Linked DNA regions of Homo sapiens. The protein of the gene in region 2 interacts with the protein of the main gene of each other region in a biochemical or structural test. Each region holds a gene or a part of one and is shown on either strand. Other genes may lie near its edges. The genes, in order: PALS2, ABCA1 and SNTG2.

Evidence for each region.
Region 1: the proteins of ABCA1 (region 2) and PALS2 interact in a test that uses a peptide from one of them, tested with the Homo sapiens proteins (one large-scale study listed by IntAct).
Region 3: the proteins of ABCA1 (region 2) and SNTG2 interact in a test that uses a peptide from one of them, tested with the Homo sapiens proteins (one large-scale study listed by IntAct).

What each region holds. Positions count from the first base shown.
Region 1 is NC_000007.14:24,646,298-24,649,951, forward strand, and holds part of PALS2 (protein PALS2), read left to right. Parts: intron 1-3,314; coding exon 3,315-3,467; intron 3,468-3,654.
Region 2 is NC_000009.12:104,785,085-104,788,738, reverse strand, and holds part of ABCA1 (phospholipid-transporting ATPase ABCA1), read left to right. Parts: exon of another isoform or gene 1-171; coding exon 172-313; exon of another isoform or gene 314-684; coding exon 685-819; exon of another isoform or gene 820-1,122; intron 1,123-1,762; coding exon 1,763-1,866; intron 1,867-2,348; coding exon 2,349-2,441; intron 2,442-3,099; coding exon 3,100-3,343; intron 3,344-3,654. UniProt on the Homo sapiens protein: Catalyzes the translocation of specific phospholipids from the cytoplasmic to the extracellular/lumenal leaflet of membrane coupled to the hydrolysis of ATP.
Region 3 is NC_000002.12:957,301-960,954, reverse strand, and holds part of SNTG2 (gamma-2-syntrophin), read right to left. Parts: intron 1-3,654. UniProt on the Homo sapiens protein: Adapter protein that binds to and probably organizes the subcellular localization of a variety of proteins. May link various receptors to the actin cytoskeleton and the dystrophin glycoprotein complex.

The DNA.
Region 1 (3,654 bases), on a different chromosome or scaffold from region 2:
ATGGCTCTTATTATTTTGAGGTATGTTCCTTTAATACCTAGTTAATTGATAATTTTTAACATGAAGGGTTGTTGAATTTTATTGGAAGCCTTTTCTGCTCTATTGAGGTAATTATGTAGTTTTTGTCTTTAGTTCTGTTTATGTGATGAATCACATTTATTGATTTGCAAATGTTGAACAGACCTTGCATTCTGGGGATGAAGCCTACTTGATCATGGTGGATTAGCTTTTTGATGTGCCGATTGATTTGGTTTGCAAGTATTTTGTTGAGGATTTTGACATTAATGTTTGTCAAGGATATTGGCCTAAAGTTTTCTTTTTCTGTTGTGTTTCTGCCAGGTTTTGATATAAAGATGAGGCTGCCCTCATAGAATTAGTTGGGGAGGAGTTCCTCCTCAGTTTTTTGGAATAGCTTTTCTGTAGGAATGGTACCATCTCTTATTTGTACATCTGATAGCATTCAGCTGTGAATCCATCAGGTCCCAGGCTTTTTTTGGTTGATAAACTATTTATTACTGATTCAATTTCGGAGGTTGTTATTGGTCTATGCAGGGAATCAATTTATTCCTGGCTCAGTCTTCGGAGGTTGTATATGTCTAGGAATTTATCTCTCTTCTAGGTTTTCTGGTTTGTGTGCATGGAAGTGTTCATAGTAGTTTCTCATGGTTGTTTTTATTTCTGTGGGTTCAGTAGTAACATTCCCTTCATCATTTCTAATTGTGTTTATTTGGCTCTCCTCTCTTTTCTTCTTTATTAGTCTAGCTAGTGGCTTGTCTATTAATTTTTTCAAAAACCCAACTCCTGGATTCTGATTTTTTGTTGTTGTTGTTGTTGTTTTAATTTAATTTAATTAATTTTTTTTTTTTTTTGAGATGGAGTCACTGTGTTGTCCAGGCTGGAGTGCAGTGGCACGATCTCGGTTCTCTGCAGCCTCCACCTCCCAGGTTCAAGCAATTCTCCTGCCTCAGCCTCCCAAGTAGCTGGGACTAGGCAGTCACGTGCCGTGACACCCAGCTAATTTTTGTATTTTTAGTAGAGACAGTGTTTCACTATGTTGGCCAGGCTGGTCTTGAACTCCTGACCTCAGGTGATCTGCCCACCTCGGCCTCCCAAAGTGCTGGGATTACAGGCGTGAGCCATCATATCATGCCCAGCCTCATTGATCTTTTGGAAGGTTTTTTGTGTCTCAGTTTTCTTCAGCTCAGCTCTAATTTTTGTTATTTCTCATCTTATTCTAGCTTTTGGGTTGTAAATCAGAATTTTCATTAGAGGTTGCAAAATGACGTTTTTCTGTTCTACATTATTAGCTAGTATTCTTCCATAATGTAGAGCTTCTCATCAACTGGGCTGCTTAGTGCATTTCTACTGAAGAGGCAGGAATGTACTTGATCCTTCCTTTTACTAAGTTTCAAAGTGAAGAGCTGTTTAAAATTGCAGTTTCAAGTGGTAACAAATGAGTTTTTTCAGTCTTTTTTTAAATAGCATTGTGGATCTATGGATTTTTTATTCAGTGTTTTAATCTTTTACAATCCCTACTTTTGATTTTCAAATTGCCGTGACTTTGACGAGTTGTGGGCAAATTTTTACTATAAAAATCTGAAGCACATGAGATTTCTGAACTAGAGATAGAAATTTAAGAGTTGTCAATGCATAAGTAGTGGCTCAAGTCACAGGAGTAAATGAAACTGCCAAAGGAGGATATAGGGTGGAAAACTAAGCAGCGCAGGTTAGCAACTTCCAGCATTTATAGGAAGAATCCTTACATATGGATTTATGAGTTGTTTTATTGAATTTTTTTCTCCAGTGTTTCACAAATTGTTTTATGAAATGACCAGAAATTACCAATTATCCTGATTGCTTTTTTCCCGAACCTGTTAATATTTGCTTCTTTCTATTTTGATTTATTGTTTTTGAACTTGAATTCTATCCAGCCCCTCAAGAATGTTAACTTATCTTTATGTTGAATATGCACAGTTGCAGTAAAAATTATTCTTTTTTTTTTTTTTTTTTTTGAGACAGAGTTTCACTCTTGTTGCCCAGGCTGGAGTACAATGGTGCAATCTCGGCTCACTGCAACCTCTGCCTCCCGGGTTCAAGCAGTTCTCCTGCCTCAGCCTCCCGAGTAGCTGGGATTACAGGCACACACCACCACGCCCAGCTAATTTTTTGTGTTTTTAGTAGAGACAGAGTGTTGCCATGTTGGCCAGGCTAGTCTTGAACTCCTGACCTCACATGATCCACCTGCCTCGGCCTCCCAAACTGCTGGTATTACAGGCATGAGCCACCGCGCCTGCCCTAAAAATTATTCTTTTAGGATAAGAAATGAAAAAAAATTTAACATTTTAGTATTAATTAAGAAATTCCTTGGGAGGCCGAGGTGGGCGGATCATGAGGTCAGGAGATCGAGACCATCCTAGCTAACACGGTGAAACCCCGTCTCTACTAAAAATACAAAAAATTAGCTGGGCATGGTGGCATGCGCCTGTAGTCCCAGCTACTTGGGAGGCTGAGGCAGGAGAATCACTTGAACCCAGGAAGTGGGGGTTGCAGTGAGCCGAGATCACACCACTGCACTCCAGCCTAGGTGACAGAGTGAGACTCTGTCTCAAAAAAGAAAAAAAAAAAGCAATTCCTAGAAAGCTAGATCAAAACCACCCATGCTGGTAGCACATACATAGTAAGTATAGGAGGTAAAAAAAATACGTTATATTCGGGACTATTACTGACTTGTTTTTTTGCTCAAAAAATGTTCCTTTTATAAACTAAAACCTTTATTGGTAATATAAAATTTTTTGTCACTGATATAAGATGCTAATATTTATCCATTTTCTGTTGGACATCTTTTAACAGACGTTTTCTACATATAAAAAGTATATCATATTACTAACATAGCAATGTTAGGTAAAAATGTCATTTGAATTTGAATTTTTATGGTATTTTAGTAAATAGGATTGATGGTAAATATTGAATGATATGATGACAGTGGTGGCAATAAAACCCAGTACCTTCATTGCACCAGACTGGAAACCTAGGTTCAGTTTCCAGTGAACTTGCCAGTTTTTAAAAAGCATCACTAATATCTCTTCATATCTCAAAGAAGGAATATAATATTGTTTGATGATAATAAAACTATATATTTTTATATCTCTTAAAAATTATATATTTATTTGATCAACCTGATATTTGGGAATTTAATACCATGTGCCTTGGAAATTTTTAGTACTCCATTGGAATAATGAAATAACAAAGTACTTTTAGTAACAAATTTCATCCACATATCATAAATAACCACAGGCTATTTTGACTCCTTATAGTCACTGTTGGAGGCCCATGATATTGTGGCATCAAAGTGTTATGATTCACCTCCATCAAGCCCAGAAATGAATAATTCTTCTATCAATAATCAGTTATTACCAGTAGATGCCATTCGTATTCTTGGTATTCACAAAAGAGCTGGGGAACCACTGGTGAGTACAGATAAATCAGTACCCTATTAAATCTGAAATATGACATAATTTGTGGTTCAGTCACTACTCTGTTTCATTTTTTTTCCTTTTCATAATGTTATGAAAACTGTATTCTTGTTTGGCCTGTGTATAAAGACACAGCTGATGCTTTCTCAACTTGGTTTAGCCTGCAAAATTTAACTAAAAT
Region 2 (3,654 bases):
GCCAGGAAGAGCTAGCATCCTGGGGGCAGAAAGGCTGTGCTTTCAAGTAGCAGCAGATGTATTGGTATCTTTGTAATGGAGAAGCATACTTTACAGGAACATTAGGCCAGATTGTCTAACCAGAGTATCTCTACCTGCTTAAAATCTAAGTAGTTTTCTTGTCCTTTGCAGTATCTTATCAAACATCCATGAAGTACATCAGAACATGGGCTACTGCCCTCAGTTTGATGCCATCACAGAGCTGTTGACTGGGAGAGAACACGTGGAGTTCTTTGCCCTTTTGAGAGGAGTCCCAGAGAAAGAAGTTGGCAAGGTACTGTGGGCACCTGAAAGCCAGCCTGTCTCCTTTGGCATCCTGACAATATATACCTTATGGCTTTTCCACACGCATTGACTTCAGGCTGTTTTTCCTCATGAATGCAGCAGCACAAAATGCTGGTTCTTTGTATCTGCTTTCAGGGTGGAAACCTGTAACGGTGGTGGGGCAGGGCTGGGTGGGCAGAGAGGGAGTGCTGCTCCCACCACACGAGTCCCTTCTCCCTGCTTTGGCTCCTCACCAGTTGTCAGGTTATGATTATAGAATCTAGTCCTACTCAGTGAAAGAACTTTCATACATGTATGTGTAGGACAGCATGATAAAATTCCCAAGCCAGACCAAAGTCAAGGTGCTTTTTATCACTGTAGGTTGGTGAGTGGGCGATTCGGAAACTGGGCCTCGTGAAGTATGGAGAAAAATATGCTGGTAACTATAGTGGAGGCAACAAACGCAAGCTCTCTACAGCCATGGCTTTGATCGGCGGGCCTCCTGTGGTGTTTCTGGTGAGTATAACTGTGGATGGAAAACTGTTGTTCTGGCCTGAGTGGAAAACATGACTGTTCAAAAGTCCTATATGTCCAGGGCTGTTGTATGATTGGCTTGTCTTCCCCCAGGGACAGCAGAGCAACCTTGGAAAAGCAGAGGGAAGCTTCTCCCTTGGCACACACTGGGGTGGCTGTACCATGCCTGCAGATGCTCCCAAATAGAGGCACTCCAAGCACTTTGTTTCTTAGCGTGATTGAGGCTGGATATGTGATTTGATCTTTCTCTGGAACATTCTTTCTAATCATCTTTGTGTTCATTCCCTGAAAATGAAGAGTGTGGACACAGCTTTAAAATCCCCAAGGTAGCAACTAGGTCATAGTTCCTTACACACGGATAGATGAAAAACAGATCAGACTGGGAAGTGGCCCTTGACCTTTTTTCTTCTGTAGATAAGAGCATTGATGTTATTACGGGAAGAAGCCTTTGAGGCTTTTATGTATTCCACCTCGGTCTGGAATTTGTTTCTGTAAGGCTAACAGTTGCAATATACTAGGGTAATCTGAGTGAGCTGGAATTAAAAAAAAAAAGGAATTTCACCCCAATCTTATACTGACTTCAATAGAGGTTTCAGACAAAAAGTTGTTTTGTATATACTTATCAGTCATGAAAAGATAATTACAACTAAATGGCCTTTTTCCTTCCCTATTTATTTGGAGAAATTTAATTACATAAAAAAGTACTCAGAATATTTGAGTTTCCTGCATCAATAAGACATTTATAATAATGACCTTGTTTACAAATGAATTTGAAAGTTACTCTAATTCTTTGATTCATCAAGAAATAACTAGAATGGCAAGTTAAAATTTAAGCTGTTTCAAAGATGCTTCTGCATTTAAAAACAAATTTATCTTTGATTTTTTTTCCCCCCAGCAAATAAGACTTATTTTATTCTAATTACAGGATGAACCCACCACAGGCATGGATCCCAAAGCCCGGCGGTTCTTGTGGAATTGTGCCCTAAGTGTTGTCAAGGAGGGGAGATCAGTAGTGCTTACATCTCATAGGTCCGTAGTAAAGTCTTGGGTTCCTCACTGTGGGATGTTTTAACTTTCCAAGTAGAATATGCGATCATTTTGTAAAAATTAGAAAATACAGAAAAGCAAAGAGTAAAACAATTATTACCTGAAATTATATATGCATATTCTTACAAAAATGCAAGCCCAGTATAAATACTGCTCTTTTTCACTTAATATATTGTAAACATTATTCCAAGTCAGTGCATTTAGGTGTCATTTCTTATAGCTGGATAGTATTCCATTAGGATATACTCTTATTTAACTATTCCCCCTTTTGTAGACATTTGGATTATTTCCAACTTGTTCACAATTGTAAACACCACTACACTGAACAGCATCATCCCTATATCCACATGTACTTGTAACAGAATACAATTCCCTAGGAAGCTGGAATGCTGGAAGTCATGGTGATGTTCTCATGGTTACAGAGAATCTCTCTAAAACTAAAACCTCTTTCTGTTTTACCGCAGTATGGAAGAATGTGAAGCTCTTTGCACTAGGATGGCAATCATGGTCAATGGAAGGTTCAGGTGCCTTGGCAGTGTCCAGCATCTAAAAAATAGGTAATAAAGATAATTTCTTTGGGATAGTGCCTAGTGAGAAGGCTTGATATTTATTCTTTTGTGAGTATATAAATGGTGCCTCTAACATAAAGGGAAATAAAACTGAGCAAAACAGTATAGTGGAAAGAATGAGGGCTTTGAAGTCCGAACTGCATTCAAATTCTGTCTTTACCATTTACTGGTTCTGTGACTCTTGGGCAAGTGACTTAACTACTGTAAGAGTTAGTTTCCCTGGAAGATCTACCTCCTAGCTTTGTGCTATAGATGAAATGAAAAAAATTTACATGTGCCAGTACTGGTGAGAGCGCAAGCTTTGGAGTCAAACACAAATGGGTTTGCATCCTGGCCCTACCAATTATGAGCTCTGAGCCATGGGCAAGTGACTAACTCCCTGGGCCTCAGTTTCTCTGTAACATCTGTCAGACTTCATGGGTCCAGGTGAGGATTAAAGGAGATCATGTATTTACAGCACATGGCATGGTGCTTCACATAAAATAAGTATTTAGTAAATGATAACTGGTTCCTTCTCTCAGAAACTTATTTCTGGGCCTGCCAGGGGCCGCCCTTTTTCATGGCACAAGTTGGGTTCCCAGGGTTCAGTATTCTTTTAAATAGTTTTCTGGAGATCCTCCATTTGGGTATTTTTTCCTGCTTTCAGGTTTGGAGATGGTTATACAATAGTTGTACGAATAGCAGGGTCCAACCCGGACCTGAAGCCTGTCCAGGATTTCTTTGGACTTGCATTTCCTGGAAGTGTTCTAAAAGAGAAACACCGGAACATGCTACAATACCAGCTTCCATCTTCATTATCTTCTCTGGCCAGGATATTCAGCATCCTCTCCCAGAGCAAAAAGCGACTCCACATAGAAGACTACTCTGTTTCTCAGACAACACTTGACCAAGTAAGCTTTGAGTGTCAAAACAGATTTACTTCTCAGGGTGTGGATTCCTGCCCCGACACTCCCGCCCATAGGTCCAAGAGCAGTTTGTATCTTGAATTGGTGCTTGAATTCCTGATCTACTATTCCTAGCTATGCTTTTTACTAAACCTCTCTGAACCTGAAAAGGGAGATGATGCCTATGTACTCTATAGGATTATTGTGAGAATTTACTGTAATAATAACCATAAAAACTACCATTTAGTGAGCACCTACCATGGGCCAGGCATTTTACTTGGTGCCTAATCCTATTTAAATTAGATAAAAAAGTACCA
Region 3 (3,654 bases), on a different chromosome or scaffold from region 2:
GACAAACCAGGGGCTGTGCCCTGGAGTGGCAGGGAGCAGGAGGGCAGGTGAGGAGTCCCAAGACCATGAGCAGGCAGTAGGAGCACCCCCTTCAGAACCAACAGCCATGCCCGGGAACCCTCAGAGCTCACCGTGCTCCCATGAACAGGCATTAGGAGCACCCCCTTCAGAACCTACAGCCGTGCGTGGGAACCCTCAGAGCTCACCGTGCTCCCATGAGCAGGCAGTAGGAGCACCCCCTTCAGAACCTAGGAACCCTCAGAGCTCACCATGCTCCCATGAGCAGGCAGTAGGAGCACCCCCTTCAGAACCTACAGCCATGCCCGGGAACCCTCAGAGCTCACCGTGCTCCCATGAGCAGGCAGTAGGAGCACCCCCTTCAGAACCTATAGCCGTGCCCCGGAACCCTCAGAGCTCACCGTGCTCCCAGCTCCTCCACGAGGGCAGAGTCCTCTGTCTGCATCCAGCTGAACCCTGAGTTCCAGGGCTCACCTGGGAGACAACAGGAATCCAATCTCACCGATGAGAAAATAAGGCACACATGACCCTACCCTGAAAAGCATCGTGCACTGAAGCATTCCCAACAAAGGAGAGAACAAAGGAGAACAGGCAGCCCGAGCTCTCGGGAGAACTGTGGGGCCCAGAAGCCCAGCATTCCCCACTGTGGGATCCTACCAGGGAACAGGCCTGGCTATCAGCTGGGATTCCTAAGCAACACTGTCACCCTAGTCACAGACGCCTGAGCCAGTGCAGCAAGGACAGGTGCTGCTTTCCAGACAGAAGGGCAAAGGACCGTGTCATTAACAGAGCCCCCTCCTACGGGAACACCTGCCCGAAGCCTCTCCACTGATACAGAAGAACCTTAAGCAGGGGGATGATGGTAATTGATGGATATTTCTTAGCAAACTATGAAAATTATCATTTTATAATGAGAATTCTAAAAAGCAGGATAGAAAATTCTATCTTGAGGATGAGTTTAACTTACAGAATATACACCAGAAAAAGCCAGAAGGAAATCTATGAGCTGCTAGATAGGTATAGACCAGGTCACAGGAACTTTCCTTCCTTGTATTTTTCCATCTCATATTCACTTTCAGTACTGAGATACGGATACCATGCCACTATTCATACAAACATCAAAGGAATAAAGGAAATGTATTTACTCCAAAGAAGGGGATAGGAAGATTCAAATCACATCCCCAAAGGTTCCCTCCATCTGCACAGCGGCACCCGAGATGCAGCCTCCAGCCCCGGGTCACAAAGGCAAGGCCTGCACGATGCAATTCTGTGACACTGGTCTGCTCCGTTCACCTTCTCCATTCAGCCCAAGGCCAGTAAAGCAAAGGCCGCCCTGAGACTTTGCACAGCCCACTGCGGGAACACCACACCCCCAGGCAGCCCCCTGCACCAGGCGACCCTAGCACAGCTGAACCCTGGACCTCCCCCCGACTCCAGGCCTCCCTGACTCCCTTCCTCCTGCCAACATGGAAATTACAAATCTAAAAGCATTCTGATTCCACCCTGATTAAAACCAAAAGAATCTGTAGGTCACGACAAAATTTGATAAAGCTTTGGAAGAAAATAATTGCAATACATAAAGCTCATAGCATTTTCATAGATCTGTGCTGGTCCTCTCCTCAATTCAATAAGGAAGAGTTGCATAAAAGAATATTTACATCCCAGCGCTTACAAAGCACGTAATTCACATATGCAGCTGTTTCCTAGTGGGTTTGTATCTTGTTCTGATAGGAAAGCTTTCAGTTTACTTCCTTTTTTCAGCTACTAGATTTTCCTCTTTATTCGATTACTAAATTTACAATATTATTCAACATAGAAATGAATTTTTTAAATATAATTAAACCTTATATAAGTGTTATACATTACAAAATATATTACAATTTGTTCTATTTCATTTTGTTGCTACAAAGAACAAATGTATTTTATATACAGAGAAAAAGTGGTCTTATCTGTGTGTGAGTCCTTATCCTTTATTACCTTTTGTTATTAGCAGTTTCAGAGTTTGGTTCTAATTTCTTAACTCTTACCCAAGCATCATTGTTTTAGATATCGTACTATCCCAAAATTTTGACTGTCATAAGGCATGTTTGATACTATAACTCCTAACATCAAAATATTAAACTATGTAAGAAATAGTACATTTTACTGTACTACATCTAGAAAGCTAAAATAGAAAATAATTTGGAAGTCCACACAATTTTTTTCATATCTCTCTGGATTTCAAATGAACCACTTTAAAAAAAAAGACCATTTATTTAGATTATAATGTATTTTGGTTACAAATTCATGTTCTCAATACCTTTCAAATTCTTAACCCCAATTTAGATAATGGTGACTTTAGAGGTTTTCTTTTTTTTCCTTTTTAAAGCAATTACAGTGTAGGTAATTGACAAAGCTTCTGCTAGTTCAGCTTCAATAAAATGTCATATCTTTGCAGAGTCTTTTTATGAAAAATCCATCTTGAAGCACCAAATCTGGAGAATATCACATAGTACTCTGCATGATCTCAACATCATTTCACTGCTATGTGTGTGGGGAGGGGCTGCATGAGCTGTTGCCATCTACTCGACTTATGAACCTGTTCCCATTTTGTATGACAACCTCAGTTATAAGAAAACAGTTGTATATTCCTCCTGATTCTGATTTCCTAATTCCTGTTGTTATCCTTTTGTCTCACAAGCAATAACCACTTAAAGGAAACGCATTTGGGGCCATTTCTCAGCCTTTGCACGTGGGATAGAGACATCTCTCTCACAGTCAGACGCCCAGGGGCTGCAGCCACCATGCGGACCACACCTCACCTGCCGTCTCTACAGTCTTATGTGTAGGTGGGGAGCATCAGCAGTACCCCAGGGGTGTTAAAGGAACGAAGCCCTCCAAAGAGCTCTTAGTACCTAGTAGATGTTAGCAATTAGGTAAGTTCTAACCTGGGGGTTCTGGGCTCAAATTCCCTACATTTCTAAGAAGATATTCCCTAAAAGCTATATTACTTACCTAAAAAGACTGATTAGCTTCCCACGGCTGCTATGACAACACTTCCTCAAACTTAGTGGCTTAAAACAATGCACATTTATCTTCTCACAGTTCTGGAAGCCAGAAGTCCAGGATCAAATTCCTCCAGAGGCTCCAGGGAGCCTCCTTCCTGCCTCCTCTAGCTCTGGTGGCTGCAGGTGCCCCTGGCCTGTGACTGCATCTCTCCCGTCTCAGTCTCAGTCTCAGTCTCAGTACCAGTCTCGCCTTCCATGTGCCGGAAGACAAATGTTGCCCGACCTCATCTATAGAAGAGGGAACACATTGTAGCTGCCCTGTGCTGTTTCGTGTCTGCTTGTCTAGAATTTGCCTCTCAGGTAGTCAGGGCCCCACTGGCCTGGTCTGAGAGGTGTTCTACTCTATTTTTATCTTTAGCTTCCAGCTCAGTGTGTGGCAATTAATAGGTACTCAATCATTCTTCTCTAAATTCTGTGTGTCTGTGTCTGCACGTACGTAAGGTGCATCATGATAAAGCAATTCTCCAAATGGCACTTAATCATCGCCAAACCCCCAACTTTCAAAAGGAGGCCTGAGACCCAGAGCTACTTCCCACCACCGTTCCCCATCCGTTGCTCCCCCTCAAGCAGGGAGGTGGTAAAATTTCTA